3 linked regions of the Homo sapiens genome follow. The protein of the gene in region 1 interacts with the protein of each later gene in a biochemical or structural test. Each region holds a gene or a part of one and is shown in the gene's direction. Other genes may lie near its edges.

What was found.
Region 2: the proteins of ONECUT1 (region 1) and FOXA1 form a complex in vitro, tested with the Homo sapiens proteins (one study listed by BioGRID).
Region 3: the proteins of ONECUT1 (region 1) and KAT2B form a complex in vitro, tested with the Homo sapiens proteins (one study listed by BioGRID).

Annotation. Positions count from the first base shown.
Region 1 is NC_000015.10:52,780,337-52,783,836, reverse strand, and holds part of ONECUT1 (hepatocyte nuclear factor 6), read left to right. Parts: intron 1-2,952; exon of another isoform or gene 2,953-3,241; intron 3,242-3,500. UniProt on the Homo sapiens protein: Transcriptional activator. Binds the consensus sequence 5'-DHWATTGAYTWWD-3' on a variety of gene promoters such as those of HNF3B and TTR. Important for liver genes transcription.
Region 2 is NC_000014.9:37,592,450-37,596,572, reverse strand, and holds the start of FOXA1 (hepatocyte nuclear factor 3-alpha), read left to right. Parts: upstream 1-1,323; 5' UTR 1,324-1,600; coding exon 1,601-1,672; intron 1,673-3,861; coding exon 3,862-4,123. UniProt on the Homo sapiens protein: Transcription factor that is involved in embryonic development, establishment of tissue-specific gene expression and regulation of gene expression in differentiated tissues.
Region 3 is NC_000003.12:20,099,446-20,102,945, forward strand, and holds part of KAT2B (histone acetyltransferase KAT2B), read left to right. Parts: intron 1-416; coding exon 417-509; intron 510-1,841; coding exon 1,842-2,023; intron 2,024-3,500. UniProt on the Homo sapiens protein: Functions as a histone acetyltransferase (HAT) to promote transcriptional activation. Has significant histone acetyltransferase activity with core histones (H3 and H4), and also with nucleosome core particles.

The DNA of each region.
Region 1 (3,500 bases):
TCAGCTCTAACCTCCCCAAAAAAGATGCGTACTTGGATTTTGTATCCGAAGTATGCTTTTGTTGGCGTGTTTTCATTTAAGAAAAGCGGGGTCAGCGTAGAGAAGGTGACCCTGGCGGTCCGAAGTCGGAGGTTGGAGCTGAGGGATATAATACCCGGCGGATTGGCGGTTCCTTTGTTTTGTTGTTTCCTCTTCCTGCAAACTGACCGGAGTCAGGAGGCAGCCCTGAGGCCTTGAGCTGAGAAGTCTTTGTTTCCTCTTGTGTGGGGTGGGTGAAAGGGCCTTCGGAGGCCGACTGGTCTGGAGCCCTGGCGCGGAGTCAGGACCCTGGACAGGGTCCCACCGCCCTGACGCCTGGTCCCATTTCTCTTCGCCCCGGTAGGCAGATAGAATGTCTTTGGGAAGTCATAGTAAGAAAACAAAAATTAACAGCTAAAGTTCCGAAGTTTCTTAGGGCGCTAGGCCCAGCCGGGAATATACACTGGCACACTGAGGTAATCGAAAAGATCAAACCTATCCTCGTCGATCGGGTGGTTGATCTTTTCGTCCCTCCACGCGGCTTTGTGTGAGTATCTGAGTGCACGTGCACACCTGCTTATAAAATCGGAATTCGCGTCCCTGTGGGTGTGACAGGGGTTGGATCATTAAGCTAAAACGTTCAATTCAGTCCCTTTGATCCGCGCTGGGGAAAATCTATAGTCATCTCTAATCTACGAGGTCTTTAAGGAGGTTGTTACACGAGCTGTTTTGATGTCATTATTTCCACATTCATGGCAAATTCAGCTAATCAAACAAATGCTGCTACCCCAAGTTATCAGAAGAAATCGTTCTTACAGAGCATACCAATAAAATTTATTTCTGATTTTCTTGTAAGACAGAAAATCCTCAAGTCTAATAAAGGTGGGTAATTAAGAAGGAGGCTCTCCAATATCCTGCTCCTCAGCTTGAGGCCTTGTTCCTCAAGTGACATTGCTTGTGCTCTTTGTAAAGTCCATTTATTGGAATATTTAAACACCGACTTAATATTTTAAATCAATCTAGGAGCCTTGATGGTTTGAATGAGAAATGACTAGTTTCCTTTCAGTCCCCATTAAAACAGCAGAATTTCCACACTCTTGGTAAAATTGAATGGCCCCCAACCTAGGGTAGCAACAGAAGGAAGGTGTTACTGAAGTTGTGGTTGTTAGAGGGTGCATTTCTTATAATGCTGGAGAAAACATTTAACAAATATTTATTAAATAATACTCTCATTGTGTCTCTATTTGAATAAGATGGATAAGCATCTTTGGGAGAAGAAAGCCACATTATTTCTACATAAAAAATGTCAGTCTCATAGAGTCCAGTAAAAAGAAAAATATTTCTTATGTGAATGGATTTAGTGCACAATCATAAATTCCTACCTTCTATCAATAGGTTTGTATAGGTTCTTATTTTAATACAAGTATGTTAATACTAACGAAGTTTAATTTCCTCCTGAGATAATAAGATTGGGCTAGGTGACTAGACCAATCACAAGACAATCTGATTATTTTGATACAAACATAAAAATTACTTATCACAGGGTCTTGCTATAGAAGCATCCACATATGTCTCTTCCAAGAGATGTTACGGTATCATAAAATTGTAACAAATTAATTTCTAGAAATTTTCTTTTCTTAATAGCTAATAGATGCTGGGCTTAGTACCAAGATGATGGGTTGATCTGTGCAGCAAACCACCACGGCACATGTTTACGTGTGTAAAAAACCTGCACATCCTGCACATGTACCCTGGAACTCAAAATAAAAGTTGAAGAAAAAAAGAAATTTTCTTCTCTTTTAGATGAGGCAATTTAATAAGACAACAGCTGGACAGAACTAGACCCTAAAGTACAACCAATCTCATTTGTCATAGTAACTGATAAGGAAGAAGCTTAAGTTTTTTGTGCACATTCTATTTGTTGGGTACTGTGATCGGAACATAGATGTTCTCATTGAAGACTCAACATTTATACCAGTGGTTCCCAAATCTTGCTATACATTGGAATCACTTAGAGACCTTTAAAAAAACTGATGCCTAGCTGCAGCTTCAGATATTTTGATGTAATTGGTACAGGACGTGACATGGGCATTGGATTTTTATAAACTCCCAGGTGATTTTGATGTGCAGCCAAGTTTGGGAACCATTAGTCTAAGTGGTATTTACCACTTTTTTCCCTGTTGCTCTCTTCAGTGAGGTTAAATAATTTACTTGTGATAACACCACTGGAAAACAGTGATGCCCTGAGCTCAGCTTTCCCAGTCCAAAGCCCAGAACATTTTATCCTCCATCCCATGCTTCTGTTGCCAGGACAGGTGCACCAGGTTAGTGGAGTCAGAATGTGGAAATAACTGATTCAAAAGTCTCTACATAATAAGCTCTTGAAATTAGAGAAAGTGTGTCTTTCCTTTGGGACTCTCAAAAAGAGTCACTTATGAAAACTTATTTCTTTTATACTCAAGACTTGTAAAAGAGATTTTTTATTACTCTTTTTTGAAGAAGCAGCCAGAAAATGTGAGGAAGTGCCAGAAGTAGATGTGAAACCCCAGCCTCCCATCCCTTTGTTCACTTAAACAATTATTGATGGACAAGACCTATCTCATTAGATGTGCCTGTGGGTGGGGCTGGTCCATTCGGTCCCTTGCCTTGAGGGGGGCCCAAGGGCTCAGATCTTCCCATACCTTCAGGCATTGGCATTCTGATCTGCACTTGGACAGCAATTACACTTCTTGGCTCCACATCAGTGCCTGCCTTGCTATTTCAAAGATTGCCTGTAACTCAAATTTTAGGGCTCTGCACTAAAAAGTAATAAATTGACCAAAACAGAGTATATAGGCTGGGAGTTGTCTAGAGGGCATCTTGCAATTTCTGTCAAACACTGCATGTTTCCAGTCACCATGTGTTTCTCATCTTCCTTTGCATATGCCGCCACGGGATATTCAGAATCGACGGTTTCTGAAATCACTGCTTTCGTTTTCACATCTGGTGATGATCTCATAGTCCCAAAGAGAGGTTATCGAAGGAACGCAATAAACTATGTGCTTTTTGCTTTCTTTCCTGTTGTCTTCTAAAACAGATCAATGGGGAAAATTAAATAAACAAACGAGCGAAGCGCGCCACCTAGTGACCTCTGTGCTCGCTGCAGATTCTGCGACTGAAGTGCGTGAGAGGAGTGGCTAAAGCGATTCGAGTATTGATGGAGTCACAAAAATCGTTCATTAAGGCAATTTAATCTTTGCTATTAAATGTCCTTTCAATTCATTTGGGGTAATTAAGATGCAGTTAAAGTGATTAAATTCTAATTACTTATGCTAGACAAAGACATATTTGTCACACTAATGCGGTTAACTAAGGACTCAGAAAGAAAGTTAACATTTACTTCAAATGATGCAACTGGAAAAATCAGTTCCTCTTTTCATCATTAATCCAGTGAGCTGGGTGATTATGTAATGGCACTACCAGCTCATTAAAAGGGGGAAGTG
Region 2 (4,123 bases), on another chromosome or scaffold:
AATTGCCTATCACCCGGTCACTTCAGTTGTTCTCTCTCCCAGGACAAGTGGGCAACCACCACCCAGGGCCTCATGAGAGTAAAGAGACTTTGCGTTGGGAAGACTCTCCCACCGACGTCCAGGACCGATTAGGAACCAAGCGAGCCCCTGAGATCTCAGCCCGGACCCTCCGGGTCACAGACAGGACCAAGCGCCGCTGCGGGCAGTCTCGGGCTTCTGCCTGGCATCTCTTTCGCAGTGCAGATGCGTTCCCGCGCCCAGGCCCTTGCTCTCCCAGCTAACGCGCGTGTTATGGGAGATGTCCCCTCCCCCTGACCTTTTCCTATCAGAAACCAGACGGTCGTCTCCAGCTCACTCCCTGAAGCGGCTGAAGGGGGGCGGGAGGAGGAGCCCGGCAGGGGGAGGACGGCCCGACTTGGGTCCGCCTGCCCTATCACACAGACATCTGCTCTCAGTTTCTTCCTCTTTGTGGTCGCTACAGATGACAAGGGGAGAGGAGCGGACCGAGGCGGAACAAAAAAAAAAAGTTATGTCATAAAGATATAAACCGGTGCTGTGACTCACCTGCTCTTAGCCGCAGGTACGAGTTTCGTGGCAGCGCCTCCGCTCTGCTAGCCCGGGGCCCGGGTCGGCCTAACGTCACTTGGCTCGGCTGACTCAGATGACCCGGTTTCTAGTGACGAAGCAAAAGTGGGGCTTTTTCCCTTTTCTAGTCTGAAGCTCTCAGGAGGAAAGAAAAAAAAAAGTCTGTATTCTCCAGTCTCCCGGGGTTGAACTTTGGGTCAGGAATCAGGAGGGAGGAAGCAAAGAGCAGGAGGGGCGCGAGACTGGGCCGCAGCCCGCGCTCGGAAGGTGGCGTGTACCTCTGGGGAGGGACCCCGGGGTCAGTTATCCCACAAGGTCTCTAAGCCCAGTCTCCGACGCCACCGCCCCCGGCCTTCTCCGGCTGCGAGGTTCCGATCCAGAGCCCTAGCCCGCCCGCCCGCCTGGCCCCGCCTATTTTTTCTTTTTCCAAAGGGGGTTACACCCCCTCCCTCCCCATTTCCCTCTTTCCCTAGCCTCCGGGCCTAAACCAATTACACTGCTTTGCAAACAAAGTGAGGGCCCCGCTTGGGGGAGGGGTCGCGGGGGAGGGGTCGCGCGCAGCGGTGAAGCGGCGGGGCGGGAGGCGCGGCGGCCGGACTGGCGGGCGGCCGCCTTGCAGGTGCACCTCGGGCTTTGTAGGTGCGAGCGTCTTTGTGCGGCGGACAAATGGGGAGAGGACGAGGAGGTGGGCACTCAAGCGACGTAAGATCCACATCAGCTCAACTGCACTTGCCTCGCAGAGGCAGCCCGCTCACTTCCCGCGGAGGCGCTCCCCGGCGCCGCGCTCCGCGGCAGCCGCCTGCCCCCGGCGCTGCCCCCGCCCGCCGCGCCGCCGCCGCCGCCGCGCACGCCGCGCCCCGCAGCTCTGGGCTTCCTCTTCGCCCGGGTGGCGTTGGGCCCGCGCGGGCGCTCGGGTGACTGCAGCTGCTCAGCTCCCCTCCCCCGCCCCGCGCCGCGCGGCCGCCCGTCGCTTCGCACAGGGCTGGATGGTTGTATTGGGCAGGGTGGCTCCAGGATGTTAGGAACTGTGAAGATGGAAGGGCATGAAACCAGCGACTGGAACAGCTACTACGCAGACACGCAGGAGGTGAGAGGCAAGGCGAGGCGGGCGGCCGGTGGGGCGCCGCTGGAGCCCGTGCCGGGGGAGGCCGGGGAGCGGTGGGCGCCAGGCAAGGCAGGCAGGCGGGCCGGGGGCGCCTTCTCGGTGCCACCGCTGCCCGCCCGCCGGTGTGGCCCCGGCCGGGCCTTGGCCGGGCCTGGAAGCGGGACCTGCTGCCCTGCTCTGTCCCGACTCTCGCAGCCGGAGAGGGAGTTTTAGGAAACTCCGGGCTTTGAAAACAGCGGCTCTAGGAAGCGCTTGCCTCTTCCCAGCAGCGAGCGGGAGCAGGAGCCGGGCCCGGGGTGCAGCGGGCGGGCGAGCGCCGGTGCGAGTTGGAAGCAACTCTGAGAAAGCCGGAGCATACCCACAAGGCGACCTCTTCGTCCCACCGTTTAATTCGCAGACGTCTTCTGATTAAAGCGCTCTGCCGCCAAGTTGGGTGTCTCAATAATGAAACGATTTCTAAATTTTGTAAAACTTGTTCTTCAAAAGCCCTATTTGGGGAGAAGTGTGCTCCTTCTCTAAAACCGCTGGGTGGCGCTAGTGCGACCAAAATCTTCTTCACAACTCTGGGCCGAGAACCTGTTTCTCTTCATTGTCCCCTTGGTGGCACGTTCATGGGGGTTATTTTTACAATGTGCACAAAAGGATTACAGGGAAAACCAGTTACAGGGAGGACTACCACCTATTAAAAGTATTTTTCTGGAAACAGCTGGCGATTACCCTCCAAAAGTTTAATTACCATTATTGAAAACGCGTATTGGAACTGCCTTGGATAATCTTGGGAAGAGGGAAAGAAAATAAAGCCCCAAGGTAAAAAATACTTTTAAGACGTGGACAGAAAAATATAGGATCACGTAATATTTTGATGGTAACTGACTTATTTAGATTTATGTATTCACAAGTTTACCTCTGAGTTTATTTGCATACCATAGTTTACTGGGTGTTCCTATTTAAATCTATTTGTTCTCATATTTTCAAATTGAGTCATACTTGCTGATTAAAATAAACTTAAGGACATCATTATTCCTTATTAAATTACCAGAGGAGTGCTTTTTAATATGCCTAGGTTTTGTATGTTTAAAATACTGTACCTAATGCATTCCCACATCGCTATTGATAAGGATTTTCGCTTGTTGATGATTTTAAAAGGAGCTCAGAGGTCTTCCAGAGATTTAATTCTGACGCAGTCATCTCGACCCCACCATTCAATTAAGACCCCTAGCGAAAGTACTTTCTTACATGTTAAAGCTGAGAATTAGGAAATACAATAGCATTAAGAGAAAATAAGTAGAATTTGATTTTCGAATTTTAAATTATTCAAGACTACTCACGGAATCTCAAAGCCAGGCGTTGAAATCATCGGCAGCAACATCAGCATGTGAAAAAAAAAAAAGATTTATTTTGACAAACTGTGTCACCAAATTTTTCAAACAGGGGACTGTAAAGTGGTGACAAAATTAATGCGAGTTTCTAAATAGCTTGCAAAGGTGTACATGTAAAGTCATGTTAAAATAAAATGCATATAGCACTTTGAGATTATTATAGCACCCCCTCCCAGCCCTTTCTGTTATGGATCTACTTTTAGTTTTATTTTTCCAAAACTTATTTAACTCTGAGTTTGCTTCCCTTTTAACATTACAGTTGCTACAAGCAGGTAGAAAACACTACTTCTAAATACAATAAACAACAAAAAGTCACCATAGGCAAAAACCCCTAGGACAATAAAGCCACTTGTTGGGAAACAGATGATTCAGGGGGTCCCATGTCCATAGGTGATTTGCTCTATCAACGATTTCCCCCCAAAGGGCGCTTTGCCGAGGCTGGTTGGGGTGGAGACTTGGGATACCGCCTGGCGTGGATGGAGGAGGCGATGAGGGGGCCCTGGAAGCCAGCCCCTGAGCCTGGCGTGTAAGGCGATTACACATCTTCCTGGGGTCATATTTTCTGTGAGCGTTTATCTTTCATGCCTGCCGCGCTAGGATTTTCCCCCTGCCGTGCAAGACATCTTTGCTCGGTCTGGGGAGGGCGCTTAGCCATTTGCCCCGGGTGGGGGCGTCCCGTGTTCTGCAAAGTGCTCTGCACTTGCCCCCGGGTTAGGTCCCGGACGGCCGCCCTCCAGTGCCCACCACTAACCCCGCCCTCCGGGGCTTCTTCACTCGCTGTCTCCACTCCAGGCCTACTCCTCCGTCCCGGTCAGCAACATGAACTCAGGCCTGGGCTCCATGAACTCCATGAACACCTACATGACCATGAACACCATGACTACGAGCGGCAACATGACCCCGGCGTCCTTCAACATGTCCTATGCCAACCCGGGCCTAGGGGCCGGCCTGAGTCCCGGCGCAGTAGCCGGCATGCCGGGGGGCTCGGCGGGCGCCATGAACAGCATGACTGCGGCCGGCGTGACGGCCATGGGTACGGCGCTGAGCCCGAGCG
Region 3 (3,500 bases), on another chromosome or scaffold:
ACCTATAGTGGCCTGGATGGGCATGTGCCAAGTGTGTAGGGTTGCATACCAGGCCTCTGGGTCAATGGAAAGCCAGAAACAGTGGGGAGAAGAGGGAAGTGCATGGGACGGTGGTGTCTGTTGGACCAGCATGGGTGGCCTAGGCTGCCCAGAACATGAAAGGTGTCCATTTCTTCATAACTCTGGCCGTGGACATGAAGGCCAATTTGGGTTACCTGATAGTTGCCCATTTTATTGACTTAAGGATTTGTTTATATATAGTTAAGATAAATAGAATATGGTAACTTCCTTTAAAGGCTGTGTGTGTGTGTGTAAGAGAGAGAGAGAGAGACAGACAGAAACAGAAGAGAGAGGAGAGAGAGATAGACATACCAATTAAGTTTTTCTTTTTCTTTTTTTTAATGATTTCTTTGCAGCTCTTGAGAAAGTCTATTTTACAAAGAGGAAAACCTGTGGTTGAAGGCTCTTTGGAAAAGAAACCCCCATTTGAAAAACCTAGCATTGAACAGGTAAAAAGATTTTAAAAGCCCTCTTTTTATTGGCTCAAGGCTGAAGAAATCTTTTAATCCTCCTTTTATATCTCTATCTACGGCTTCCCTCCTCCATACCCAGGTTAGAGATGTTTACCAGTCTGTGGAAATTGTCCTGGAGGCTTTGGATCAGAGGTGTATACCTAATTTAATACATGATCTAGCTTTTGCCTTTTAGGGTTGTTACATACTCACAGTTTACTGTGTGTTTGGGGAAGAAAAACATTAAGTAGAACATGTAGTTTGTAAGAAGAACACATGAAATGTGCTTTTTCTTGTTGTTGGTGCTTTAAAATGAAGTCTTTGTCCATTTGCTTGGCACTGTCTGAGAAAGCCTATTGAGGTGAGGGGATTTAGTAGCAATGTGAAAAACATTGTAAGTCAAGCAAAAAAAGCAAAAAAGAAATGAGATTTTGTACCCAGAAATGGACTTCCTGCTACATTATGATTCCTGGAAAGAAGCCGTTTTACTCAGGGAATCTGTTAAAATGTAAAGAGTTTTTCTGTTAGGTGTTGTCAGTATCTCTCATTAGCATCACTTTTTTAGCCTTTGATTGTTTGGCTAAACAAAAACACTCTGGACTGAATTTTTTGATGAGAATGACTACTGAAGTCATGATACCAGAATCCTTAAAAATAAATGCATTTTTATCAGTCAGTTTTCAGTAAATTTTATTTTGCCTCCAAACTCTATTAAATAAGAATTCATTGCTCTTTTATTTGAAATTAGATGAGATGGAAATATTCTGTAGAAAGATTAAATTAACAGTTTTTTTAAAAGCCCATAATTTTGAATGATATATATATTTTGGTAAGCTTATTGACTTCAAACAAATGATAGTAAAGAGTTTAAATTTTAGTTGTTTAGTTCAGTGGTAGGCATGATAGCAGGTTTTTGATTAGCATTTTTGTAATGTAAAAACAATATTTATCTAAGAACTGCATTATATGTGGGCTACTCTGCTGATAGTAAAGCAATAATTATTCTGCACAACAGTCATATTTTCTTGTTTCAGGGGTTTTGACCTTTTCAGTCCATGGTTTTGATTTTCTCCTTAATGCTTCAGGATTTCAGCAGGCGTAGAATCACAACTCACAGCCTCTCTGTCTTGTCACTTTTCATCCACCGTGATCTGAGGCAAGATTCCCTCTGGGGATTGCTATTTTCTTTTAGGGAAAAGGAAGAGATTTTTGTGAATAGAGAAATGTCTGTTATTTTGCTAATAACCACCAATCATGCTGGCTGTGTGGGTGTTCAGAATTAGTATGATTGCATAGCTGCATGAAGAAATTGCCTTCCCTCTTTTTAAGGGTGTGAATAACTTTGTGCAGTACAAATTTAGTCACCTGCCAGCAAAAGAAAGGCAAACAATAGTTGAGTTGGCAAAAATGTTCCTAAACCGCATCAACTATTGGCATCTGGAGGCACCATCTCAACGAAGACTGCGATCTCCCAATGATGATATTTCTGGATACAAAGAGAACTACACAAGGTAATCAGATGCAAGTTCTTTTCCTTTGGCCCCATAAAGCCTGTTACAGACCTAAAATTGTACTTGACTCTATAAGTATAGGGCTGCCTAGTTATCATTATGACTCCATCAATTCAGAGATAATGTCTTTATAATTTAACTTGCAAACTCCTGCTTTTCATTGCTATCATAATATGTTGAGGTGTGAGGGATGTAAATCATCTATACCCAGTGTGATAGCCACTAGCTATATGAGCACTTGAAAATGTGGCTAGTTTGAATTGAGATTTCTATGATTGTACCAAAAAGGAGTTTAAAATTGCTCATTAATACTTTTAAAATATTGATTACATGTAGAAATGATAGTACATTGGATACATTGGATTAAATAAAATATATTGAAGTTAATTTTACCTGTTTTTACCATTCCAGTGTGGCTACTAGAAAATTTAAAATCCATATGTGGCTTGTGTTATTTATCTATTGAATATAGTTGACTAGATAGCTACACTATAACTCTGAAATTAATTAGAGCCCTCACTCAAAAAATGCAATGACCATATAATGAAGTTAAAGAATTTTTTTTAGGCTGGGCATGGTGGCTCACACCTGTAATCCTAGCACTTTGGGAGTCTAAAGTGGGTAGATCACTTGGGTCAGGAGTTCAAGACCAGCCTGGCCAATATGGTGAAACCCCATCTCTACTAAAAATACAAAAATTAACTGGGCATGGTGTCACGTGACTGTAATCCTGGCTACTTGGGAGGCTGAGGCAGGAGAATCACTTGAACCCTGGAGGCAGAGTTTGCAGTGAACTGAGATCGTGCACTCTGGGCAACAGAGCAAGACTCTGTCTCAAAAAAAAAATTTTTTTTAAAGGAAAGATTAGCTTAGTTCCAGAACTGTGATGGAACTGACATCATTATACATATTATCTTCCAGGTTTTGTCCTTTTAAATAACATTTTACATTAGTTATAATGAAAGAAAATGTAGAATTTTGTAGCCTTTATGTCTCTTCACTTAATATCATATCAAACATTTCACAGGTTACATTATAGTCCATTGAGTTGATTTACCACAATTTACCTAACCATTTCTCTATTGCTGGACATTCAAACTCTGCAGATAGTCTTGGATTGAACATATATTTTCTTCTAAAGTGGAAATTTATTTTTATTGCTTATTACTTGCAGAATAACAGAATTGGTTTTACAAATCTTAAACTTGTACCATACAAAATATAAGGACCTACATTTATTTTCATCTGAAGGACTGTGACTTGGGTCATCCATTCTTTTCAACTTTTTTATAACTTTTCTATAACTTTTCTCTGTTTATATTTCAGAGGCACATCAAGCTTGCATTAGGGAGCTTTAGTGCCTACTTTTTTCCTGATTTAAAGTGGGCAGTAGTATCTTTTGATAGCCTGTCAAGACCACTTGTGCCCAGGTTATTTTCTGTAACAGCAGATAACATGGAAGAATTGTATAATTTAA